Linked DNA regions of Homo sapiens: region 1 is linked to region 2. A link means that fine-mapping ties the variant in region 2 to the expression of a gene that starts in the linked region. Tissue or cell type: whole blood. Region 2 holds a variant in brackets; the other region holds the start of a gene. All regions are shown on one strand. Distances are between the middles of the regions.

Region 1 (2,687 bases), 87 kb after region 2:
TCGCTCAAACAGCACCAGAGTCTGCATTCCAACTTTTCCTCCGTCAACGAGTCCATTCTCATTGTCAGTTTCTCCTTAAACGCAAACTTAAAAACAATTGGCTGAACAAGCGGGAAGAAGGAAAATCCGACTGAAAAATGAGGCGTTAAAACTTAAGGGCCGTTCCCCTTGCCGGCCTGGGCTCAAACAACAGCCGGAGCTGCGCCGCCCCGCCCCGCCCCGCCCCGGTCCCGGGAGCAGGCCGGCTGAGGGCGGCCATGGACCCCACAAGGGCTTGGGCCGCCGCGGACTCCCCCCTCGGGGCTAGGAGACGGGGACCGAGATGGGCCAGAAGCCCCCAAGCCAGCCCCTGGCGAGAAGCCGGAAAGACGCGCCCTCCGCCTCCTCCCACCCAAGCCTCGCGCAGTCCCAGCCCGGCCTGGGATGGGCAAGTCGCGGGGGAAAGGGGCGGGCCTGCCCCGCCCGGGGAGCCGGAGCCTCTCCGGGGCAGGCTCCCCTTTGTCCCGGGACTCGAAGCGCCCCCTCTCCGTCCTCGCCCTGCCCCGCGGGGCCGCGGCCGGGCGCCTCACCGTGATGTTGCAGTGGAGCGTGAGTGGCGGCGGCAGCGAGTGCGGGCTGCCCTGCTGCGGCACCAGGAACTGGCAGTGCAGCTCGTCCAGCTTCCAACTGACGATGCGGAATCGCTCGTGGTTCTTGTCGAAGATGGACGCCAGGAACTTCAGCTCGGCCTTGAGCCCTGACACGGACATCTTCCCCTCATCTCCGGCGGGAGGGGCGCGGAAGGGGAGCCGGGCGCGGAAGGGGAGCCGGGCCCGGAGCCGCCGTCACGGCCGCGACCGCCCCGCGGGGCCGGCCTGGGCCGCGCTCTCGCGGCTCCGCCTCGTCGAGCGCTGCTGGAAAATGGCGAGGGGCGCGGAAGCCTCGGCGTGTGGCGGCCTGGGTGGCGCTTCCTTTGTAACCGACTCCAGCGGCAGGAGGCGGCGGCCCCGCGGCTTAAAAGGGCAACAGCGACGCCGCCCCCGCTACCGCCTGGGAAAGGGCTGCCCCCACCCCGCCCCCGTCCCCCTCACCCTGGCGCGCCCTGCGCGCTCCGGTTTCAGCGCGTGCACGAGGCCAGAGCGCGCGCGCCCGGCCGCCCCCTCCTCGCCTTGACCCAGCTCCCTTGTTCCCGACCCATCTGCTCCGTTCTTCGCACCCGCGGACTGGAGGCTCGGGGCCAGCTGGCGCCCGGGCCCCAGAAGTCGGGGAGGAGCCGGAGACCCCCGCGCGCCCCCGCCCCCGGCCTGGAGCCGGACACGTGCGTGGCGGATCGCGCCGGCCACGTCGGCGCCGCTGCAGACTAGCGCCAGCCCCTGGGGGCGGCTCCTCAGCTTGGCGCTCGGCGCGGCACCCGCTAACCTCACTGGGGGGACCTCGTGGGAGACGCGGGTGCGGCTCACCCAGCGTTACCTCCGCTACTTTCACCCTAGTCCGAGCCACCGCTTCGCTAGCCTGGGTTCCTGTGAGGACCTTCTCACCAGCCTGGGTTCCTGTGAGGACCTTCTCACCGGACTCGCTGCTCCCGCCTTTGCTCTCAAACCATCCATTTACCCAAGACGATGGTTTAGCCCCTGGAGGCTGTTGCCTGGAGGTGTCCCATGATTTCATCCCTTCCCTTAGCTACCACCTGTGTTCACTCTGCCGTATATAGTCTCTCTCTCCCCCCTTTCCTTATTTTGCCTTGTTTCCCAAGCTTAAGATAACCCTCCCCACCCACACCCCCATGGAGCTAGGGCTGCCCACTATTTTCACTAAACTCATAGCTCAAATATCATCTCCGGCACCCCCCACCACAACCCATTTCAAATAGTCACCCTGTGTCACATCGTCCTGTGCTAAGTTTTTGTTGGGCACCTGTCACTATCTGATCTTTAACCCATTTATTCCTTGTCTCTGCCCCGTGTTAATGTGTTCAGAGCTGTATCCCCAGGACCTAGAACAAGACCTGTTATATAGTAGAAACCCGATATGATTGAATTGAATGCTCGCTCTTATCTGGAATCCCCACCACTAGCACAATTCCTGGCACATTGTAGGTGCTCAAAAAATGAATAAAGGTCTGGATAGCAGTCCAAAGGAATACATCCCAATTTGGCAGACAATAGTGTGTGCAATCGTAAGTGCAAGAGGCAGGACCAGCTGCATATGCGTCCAACCTATGTAGTTGCACAGTGCTCCCAGCTTAGAAGGGCTTCGAGCTTGGTTTAATATTCTGGTGTCGCCATTTTGAAATTCGTAATTTTTCAGAAAGGGGCTCCGCATTTTCCTTTTCCAGTCTTACCTAGAGTTACCCAACCCTGACACCTGTCTCTTTCTTCCTAATCTACAAGAGATCCCTGGGCTACTGGTCCCCTTAGATGACAAAATACAGAACAACACAGGGACACATTAAGTCTACTGAAAGTTTTTATTTCCATCTACTTCTGAGATTTTGTATCATGTTATAGTCCTTAGCCTTTAAGAAGACAAATAAACTTTTCCAATTTACCTCAGTAAGTTAGTAGCTCCCCACAGCCTACAAATTCAGTCTCTTATCATTCAAACCAGCCCTAACTTTTCCTGGCCATGCCCCAACTTCTACCATCTTCTACCCCAACTTCTATCTAGCCTTTAAGAAGACTAAGATTCTCACAGACCCCTTTGAGAAT
Region 2 (2,687 bases):
CCAGGGACCTCAACTTTAGCTATTTTCCCAGATCTAGCTCATAGAGATAACCAGAAGAGAGACTATAACTAGGATGACTTACATTATTCTTATAGATACTGATCTGCAACAGTCTGTCCCCATGTCACCACTCTAGGATGCAAATATTAAACAGAGTGGGAAACAAATAGTAGTGTTTACAAGCATTGAGGGTGGGGTAGGGTCTGATTTTCCTGCTGGAAACAAATGATATTTATGTCCACCTAATTGTTTCAAACTCAAAATGATATGTATTTTCATTCAAGATGGAAAGGAAGTAATGGCTCCCAAGACAGAAGAGCAAATATTTTTATCTTTGAAAGCAAAAGCCTTAGTAACAAAAAAGATCCACAATTTTTAAGCTTGAAAAAGCCTTTCAAAAGATCTAATACAGAATTTCCAAAAACCAGTACGACTTGCAAGACATTCTGTGGAAAAAAGTTTTGTGACCAAACACATTTGGGAACTGTCACAGGTAATGCTATTCTCCTTCCAGATTTCCACAGCACTGGGCATATTAGAAGCTCTGAGAAGTTTTGCCATAAAGATACACTCTAACCATGTGTTTCCTTTAAAGGAGGAAACTAGAAAGGAGGTGACACATTGAGGTCACACAGAGTACCACATCTGTCAAAGGAAAGATCAACAGGCAATGTCAAATTTTAAGGAGAATGTGACTCAAGGAAGTTCTTGAAGGACAATATATATAAAAATGTAATTATTCAACCGTAAGCAGAATTATGTTCAGTAAGCCCCTTAGCCAATGTCTACTACAAAATGGAATGAACTATTATCTTAATAATTCTTTAAACACGTTTTTTAAATTGTTAACCCCAAAGTGACAAAACCTGAGACCATTTCCCTTCATTCACAGACGAAATCAGAAGCACACAAGACATACTTTTCAGAAGTCAGTGATGACAGGTTGTCCACCTGGCCTCCAGCCAAGATGATATTCATATCACTGAAAGTGCTGACTACTTGCTGCAGATAATTACTGGCTCCCACCTTACAGCAATTATAACCAAAGACAAGGACCACACGAAGTTCAGGGTTATCTAAAAGACCTGCAGAGAAATGAAGAGCAACAGTTAAAGACAGCCTTAAAACAGAAATTATTTTATACATGCTGCAAAATGAAATGTTACTGAC[T/C]TGCACTCCACCTTAAGGGCAATTTAGTGGCTTAAGCTATCAAATTTTCCATTTTTTATTTTTTATCTTATTTTATATCCTCTTCGATCTCTGTATCAAGTTTTCCATTTTTTACAAACATTATGCAAAATCTTAATTATTTTTTCTATTAAAAAAACTAAATGGCTATTTGTGTTAATAAATAATGCAATCAACACAAATAATGAAGCAGCTATGTACTGAGCAGCAACTCTTGGTAGACCAAGGTGCAAGCTGGCTCTCAGTAGGGAACAAAAAAAAAAAAACACTGGTTTACACAGAGCTGTGCTAGCAGCAGTGAGAATTTACAGATTTTTTATTTTTTAAAGGAGAGAAAAGGCGCTAACCACTTATAGTGTGGTGAACAGTGCCCCCTGCCCATGCCAAAGGTATATCCACATCAAACCTCTGGAACCTATGCATGTAAGCTTATTTGGAAAAAGGATCTTTAAAAAAAATTTTTTTTTTTTTGGTAGAGATGGGGTCTCGCTATGTTAGTAAGGATCTTAAGATTAAATCATCTGGTCTATCCACGTGGGCTCTAAATCCAATGACAGTGTCCTCATAATGAAAGATGTACAAAGGAGAGACAGAGAAGAAAAGGCAGTGTGACCACAGAAGCAGAAACTGGAGCGGTAGGAAGAGAAAAAGAACAGACTCTCCCCTACAGCCTCCCAAGGTAGCACTACCCCTACTGCCATCTCAATTTCAGACTTCTGGCCTCCTGAACTGTGCAGAATAAATTTCTCGTTTTATGTCACCAAATTTGGGGTACTTTGTTACAGCAGCCTAAGAAACTACTACATCACTGAAATACAGGCTTTATTCACCTCCTCCACGGAAGCAGGTGAGAGTAAAGGCGAATTAGCCTTTGAAAGTTCCTTGCAAAGCAGGAAAATGTTCAATTCTGTGACACAGGAACTAAAAGCTGCTACCGCTAGGAGGTGGCAGAGTGTAACAGAGACAGCCTACTTGCTCTGCCCACAGCTCCCAGGTTTCACTGGAGCCTCTGGCAGCTTGTTTATAGACTATCAATTTGATTTTTTTTTTAAGTTCAGGGATACATGTTCAGGTTTGTTCCACAGGCAAACGTGTGTCATGGGGGTTTGTTGTGCAGATTATTTCATCACCCAGGTAATAAGCCCATTCTCCATTAGTTATTTTTCCTGATCCTCTCCTTCCTCACACCCTCCACCCTCTGGTAGGCCCCAGTGTCTGTTGTGCCCCTCTTTGCGTCGATGTATTCTCATCATTTAGCTCCCACTTATAAATGAGAACATGCAGTATTTGGTTTTCTGTTTCTGTGTTAGTTTGCTAATGATAATGGCCTCCAGCTCCATCCATGTCCCTGCAAAGGACGTGATCTCATTCTTTTTTATGGCTGCATATGTACTACATTTTCTTTATCCAGTTTATCACTGATGGGCATTCAGGTTGATTCCATGTCTTTGCTACTGTGAATAGTGCTGCAATGAACATACATGTGCATGTGTCTTTAT

What was found. PIP is the estimated chance that this variant, and not a neighbour inherited with it, causes the effect.
Region 1: UBE2Q2 starts here. The variant in region 2 is fine-mapped to the expression of UBE2Q2 in whole blood (INTERVAL, PIP 0.94).

What each region holds. Positions count from the first base shown.
Region 1 is chr15:75,841,729-75,844,415 of GRCh38, reverse strand. UBE2Q2 (ubiquitin conjugating enzyme E2 Q2) reads right to left here and starts at 969. Exons shown (of 13, transcript NM_173469.4): 1 at 570-969. The coding sequence starts at 749. RefSeq lists silencers at 159-558, 809-888, 1,029-1,168, 1,209-1,388 and an enhancer at 1-887.
Region 2 is chr15:75,928,282-75,930,968 of GRCh38, reverse strand. FBXO22 (F-box protein 22) reads right to left here. Exons shown (of 7, transcript NM_147188.3): 6 at 920-1,085. Among named protein-coding and RNA genes, the nearest start is that of FBXO22, 26 kb to the right of the region's middle. The variant T/C (reference allele first, on the strand shown) is at 1,171.